Regions from separate parts of the Homo sapiens genome. Here region 2 is linked to region 1. Evidence: fine-mapped QTL for protein levels in blood plasma. Region 1 holds a variant in brackets. A gene starts in the other region. All regions are shown on their reverse strands.

Evidence for each region. PIP is the chance, under the fine-mapping model, that this variant and not a neighbour inherited with it causes the effect. The UK Biobank Pharma Proteomics Project read protein levels with antibody pairs (Olink). The fine-mapping took linkage between variants from a reference panel, not from the people measured, so its PIPs are less certain.
Region 2: it holds the start of CSF3, and the variant in region 1 is fine-mapped to the plasma level of the CSF3 protein (UK Biobank, PIP above 0.99).

What each region holds. Positions count from the first base shown.
Region 1 is chr1:36,471,708-36,474,533 of GRCh38, reverse strand. CSF3R (colony stimulating factor 3 receptor) reads left to right here. Exons shown (of 17, transcript NM_000760.4): 5 at 647-770; 6 at 912-1,099; 7 at 1,848-2,017; 8 at 2,143-2,296; 9 at 2,395-2,468. Among named protein-coding and RNA genes, the nearest start is that of MRPS15, 8.7 kb to the right of the region's middle. The variant G/A (reference allele first, on the strand shown) is at 2,257.
Region 2 is chr17:40,014,191-40,017,083 of GRCh38, reverse strand. It overlaps CSF3 (colony stimulating factor 3), which reads right to left and starts at 1,644. Exons shown (of 5, transcript NM_172219.3): 1 at 1,570-1,644; 2 at 1,239-1,393; 3 at 744-851; 4 at 453-599; 5 at 1-289. The coding sequence starts at 1,609. The coding sequence ends at 125. It overlaps PSMD3-AS1 (PSMD3 antisense RNA 1), which reads left to right and starts at 2,443. Exons shown (of 3, transcript NR_198981.1): 1 at 2,443-2,530; 2 at 2,725-2,846. RefSeq lists an enhancer at 1,235-1,734.

The sequences.
Region 1 (2,826 bases):
AGAACAGCCTGGCCAACATGGGGAAACCCCGTCTCTACTAAAAATACAAAAATTAGCCGAGTGAGCCGAGATCACGCCACTGCACTCCAGCCTGGGCCACAGAGTGAGACTCTGTCTCAAAAAAAAAAAAAAAAAAAAAAAAAGCACCAGTAATGGCCACTGCTAACACTTACATAGCATTTCCTGTAAGTTAGGCACTGTTCTGAGCACTTCATGTAGAGTGAGTCATTTAGCCCTTGTGATAACGCTAGGGGGTGGGATTTTACCATTATCCCCATTTTACAGATGAGGATGCTGAGGCATGGAGCAGTTAAATAACTTCAAGATCACAGGGCTAATGAATGGCAGGACCAGGATGAAAACTCAAACACTACACTGTCACTGACAAAGGGTCTAGAGTTGGGGGCCTTGGAAGTGGGCCACCACTGGGCTGCTGGGAGTCTGTGATGCTTGCCCCGGTGCATGCCTGCAACTTAGCTTCCCCCAGGGCTGCCCTTCCAGAGCCACTCTGCCTGGAGACAGGGGGACAGACAAGGTGACAACAGAGGAACCAAGCCAGGGCAAGGCAACAGGGCCAGCTGGTCCCAGAGGAAGCTTTCTGAGTGGTCCCACCCAAAGCCCTCACACTCTTCCCACCCACATGCAGACCCTCCAGCCATACCCCACAACCTCTCCTGCCTCATGAACCTCACAACCAGCAGCCTCATCTGCCAGTGGGAGCCAGGACCTGAGACCCACCTACCCACCAGCTTCACTCTGAAGAGTTTCAAGTGAGGAGGGGCCCCCACCTTGGTCCCCTCCCTTTGGATTCTGGGGTAGGGCATGGGTAGGATGCTGGGCATGCCTCTGGGAGGGAGAAGGGAGCCTCGCTTTCTTCCTCTGCTTGGCACCCAAGCCTGGACTATTGGCAGGAGCCGGGGCAACTGTCAGACCCAAGGGGACTCCATCCTGGACTGCGTGCCCAAGGACGGGCAGAGCCACTGCTGCATCCCACGCAAACACCTGCTGTTGTACCAGAATATGGGCATCTGGGTGCAGGCAGAGAATGCGCTGGGGACCAGCATGTCCCCACAACTGTGTCTTGATCCCATGGATGTTGGTGGGTGATGCAGGGGAGGGAGGGGATCCCCAAAATGGGCAGACACTGAGAGGAATGGAGAGGGAAACACAGAACTAGCGACAGACAAGAAGACACTGGAAGACCTAGAGACAGAGGCACAGAAGAGGGACAGAGACAAAGAAAGGTGCAGCTGGAGACAGAGAAATGGGGACACAGACCCAGAGACAGGAAGAGACACAGAGGCAAAGAGACACATTCAGTCATGCTTTCAGCGTGTTTCCTAAAGCACCCACTACATGTTAGGCACTGCTCTAGGTACTGGGGATACAAAGCATCAAAAATGCCCTCAGAATGTTAGATTCAAGTGGGGGGGAAAATAAGATAGAATTTCAGATAGCAATAAGCAGAAAGGAGAAATTAAAGGAGGAGAAGGGCATAGAGAGAGAGGGGGGAAGGGGAGCACTGGCTATTTTAATATGCTGGTCAAGAAAGGCCTCACTAAGAGGGTGACAATTGAGCAGATCCTTGAAGGAAATGAGGGAGCAAGCCGCTGGATATCTGGAGGGAAAACATTTCAAGCAGAAGTAACAACCAGTGCAAAGGCCCTGGGGCAAGAGCGGAAACAGAGACCTAGAGAGAAACAAAGACACATAGAGATCGAACCACAGAAACGTGTCATTGGCAACGTGGACAGATGGTGAACCACAGACAGGGAGACAAGAGGGAGCTAAGGCAGAGCCCTCTAGGGTGGGATAGGGAGACCTTCTGACAGCCCCACTCCTTGCAGTGAAACTGGAGCCCCCCATGCTGCGGACCATGGACCCCAGCCCTGAAGCGGCCCCTCCCCAGGCAGGCTGCCTACAGCTGTGCTGGGAGCCATGGCAGCCAGGCCTGCACATAAATCAGAAGTGTGAGCTGCGCCACAAGCCGCAGCGTGGAGAAGCCAGCTGGGCACTGGTGAGGCAGAGGGCAACCTGGAGAGCCTGAGGTGGTGGGGGCAGGGGGCAGGGTAAGTCGGGCTCGAGCTGGCCCTAGAATGGCCCAGCGATCCAAGGCTCAGAGTCCTGTCCACCCCTCACCAGGTGGGCCCCCTCCCCTTGGAGGCCCTTCAGTATGAGCTCTGCGGGCTCCTCCCAGCCACGGCCTACACCCTGCAGATACGCTGCATCCGCTGGCCCCTGCCTGGCCACTGGAGC[G/A]ACTGGAGCCCCAGCCTGGAGCTGAGAACTACCGAACGGGGTAAGGAGGTGATGAGAGGCTGGGAGCAGCCAACAGTATCCAGTCCAGGCCCCAGGCCCCTCCCCAACTGGCACCCCCTCTTCTTGTTCCATCCACAGCCCCCACTGTCAGACTGGACACATGGTGGCGGCAGAGGCAGCTGGACCCCAGGACAGTGCAGCTGTTCTGGAAGGTGACTCCCTCTGAAGGCCATCCCTCCACCTCGACACCTCCCGCAGTCCAAACAGATCCCTACAAACCGGGGCTTAGGACTCCAACAGGTCTGGGAGGCGTGGACGCATTTATATGTGATTTGCATGCACTTTGCATGTGCCTAGGGAGCTGAGTTAGCTTTTGGACAGACTGTAACGCACGTCACAGTGTGGTTCAGTGAATAGTTAAGAGCCTGCTGTGTCCACCAACTTGTTTCTTCCTGCCCTCCTTCCTAGAACCTAGCACAAGGGAACAGAGGGAAAAGGGGAGGGGGGTGAGAAGCCTGGACCCCAGCCTGGGGAGGCTCCGTTTGTATGATCCATCCACCCCACCTAGAG
Region 2 (2,893 bases), not on the chromosome of region 1:
AGAAATGCAGGGAAGGACACAGAGGCCTGGGGCTCCGTTCTGCTCTTCCCTGTCTTTAAATATGAGGCTTAAATAGACATAAATATTAAATAGAGATAAATACATGGGATGGGGAGGGCTTGGCTCAGGGCTGGGCAAGGTGGCGTAGAACGCGGTACGACACCTCCAGGAAGCTCTGCAGATGGGAGGCAACCAGGACCCCTCCTGCCCGGCGCTGGAAAGCAGAGGCGAAGGCCGGCATGGCACCCTGGGTGGGCTGCAGGGCAGGGGCCATTCCCAGTTCTTCCATCTGTGGGGGAAAGCTGTGATCAGTGGTTGGGCCCTTCTGAGTGGGCGTTATTACAAATGAGGAAATGCTGGGGGTGACAGCATGGACAGGGCCCATACACAGGCCTGGCTGTGGTGCCCAGAATGCCAGCACGACCTTGGCCACCCTGCCCAACAAGGCTCACCTGCTGCCAGATGGTGGTGGCAAAGTCGGCGACGTCCAGCTGCAGTGTGTCCAAGGTGGGACCCAACTCGGGGGAGATCCCTTCCAGGGCCTGCAGGAGCCCCTGGTAGAGGAAAAGGCCGCTATGGAGTTGGCTCAAGCAGCCTGCCTGTGAGACAGAGCGGAAGAGTTAGGGGGTGCTGCCTGAGATACGTCAGGCCCCCAGCTTGGAACCTGGAGACATGGGGGAGCCCATGGGTGTTCCTCCTCTCCTTCCCCCTCCTCATTAGCCTTATCCTTTCCTGACACTCACCAGCTGCAGGGCCTGGCTGGGGCAGCTGCTCAGGGGAGCCCAGGGGATGCCCAGAGAGTGTCCGAGCAGCACCAGCTCCTCGGGGTGGCACAGCTTGTAGGTGGCACACTGGGGATGGAAGGATGCTGAGTGAGACTCGCCATGGCCGGGTCGCCGCTCCTTCCCGGGTCCTCCCCGACTCTCTGGTCTTTCCCCTCCCTCCATGTCCTGCCAGGCTGTTCAGTTCCTCTCTGCCCTGCACCCCCACTCTCTGATCTCACAGGGGCCCTTGCCCTTTCTCCTGAATGTAATGCCTCCACTCCCATCCCAGCCAGCCCTCCCGAGCACTGTCCCCACCAAGGTCCTCCTCCCCAAGTCCCTTCCCAGCCTTCCCCAGCTCCACTGCTCCTAATATTCTCCCACGTCCCTTCCAGAGGATGTTGGCCCTGCAGTTCCATCCCCCTTAGCTCTCCCCACCGGGCTTCCCTCCACAGCCCTCTCACCCACCTCACTCACCAGCTTCTCCTGGAGCGCTGCGCCATCGCCCTGGATCTTCCTCACTTGCTCTAAGCACTTGAGCAGGAAGCTCTGGGGCAGGGAGCTGGCAGGGCCCAGGGGGGTGGCTTCCTGCACTGTCCAGAGTGCACTGTGCCACAGCAGCAGCTGCAGGGCTGGGGACAGAGCGGGCTCAGGAGACATGCTGTTCCCTACCACCTGAGGCCCTCTCGGGGACACTGGGTGCCTTTAATCCCCATTCCCAGAACGGGGATCCCCAGCCCCTCTGTCACACCAGCCTCCCTCCCATGCCAGGGCAGGCGGCTCTCCCATCCTGGGCCAAGACACTCACCCATCAGCTTCATGGGGCTCTGGGTGGCAGGTCCAGCCATGGGTCTGGGTGGGGCTGGGCTGCAGGCTCCGGGCTGTTTTGGGGCCCAGCTCTAGGGGGGCCTTTATACATAACCCCATGGAGGCCTGGGAGGAAATTACCTGGGGCCACGACTAAGGCTTAGTAATAACTTCCCAGGATTTATGCAAATTTGGTGTCCAAGACAATGCAGGGGGGTTGGAACAAAAAGCTGTTTGCGAAAGTTTTGTGAAATTGTGGAATCTCTGATCCTCCTTTGACGTCGCCTTGCCCCCCTCAAACTCCCTTCCTCCCGCTGCCCCACCCAGGCCTGAATGGCCCCAGAGTGTTTGAACAGAACAGCTGAACAAAGGCTGAGCCGCTGATAGACGCCTGGAAGCGGCAGCAGCCTGTGGGGAAGTGGCAGCTGAGTCGGGGTCTCCCTCTCTGCTCTGGCAGACTTGCGGGGGCAGTGTCCTTTGCCCCTCTCCTTTGGGATTCTCAAGCCTGTCCCCCAAGCCCCCAAATTCTAAGAGAGAAAAAAAGAAGCTGGTTGCTCCCATTCCTACCCCCAAACTCTCCGGAGGCTGCCTGTCTGGGAGACCTCCTGAGCCCCTACCTGAGATAAGGACATTGGGTCTTGGCTGCTGTGCCCACCCCACACTTGGATAGGCACCATCGAAAGTTCCAGGCTGTCCTGTCCCAAGTTGATTAGCTGGGAACTCCCCCAGAAACCCCCCCGCCCCCCATGACTCATTCGGCTAAAGCCCCTAGAATCCCGGTAGAGCCAGAGGAAACCGGATGTCTGTCCCGAATGAGGCAAGACCCTTCGAGGCGATTGGCTCACCTGACCTTCACCTCCTCGTGCACGACCCTGACAGTAGGGTCCCCAAGGGCTTTGGAACTGCGGGATTGGGACACGTGACTTCCCTGGTCATTCACCTTGAAGTGGACACGGGCTGGGGTGAGAGAGGGGAAACTGCCCCATCTTCTCATCTTAGAACCATGCAGCGTTAATGCTGGAAGGGACCTTGGAGTCGATTCCAACCCCGTGAACTGGGCCAGGGAAGGAAGTGCCTTGCCCAAGGTCATGGTAAGTGACAGAATTACAGCCTGGGCCTCTGGCTCAGACCTGAACGTTTTCTTTTTCTTTTCCAGATGGAGTCTTGCTCTGTCGCCCAGGCTGGAGTGCAGTGGCGCGATCTCGGCTCACTGCAAACTCTGCCTCTCGGGTTCACGCCATTCTCCTGCCTCAGCCTCCCGAGTAGCTGGAACTACAGGTGCCCGCCACCATGCCCGGCCAATTTTTTGTATTTTTAGTAGAGAC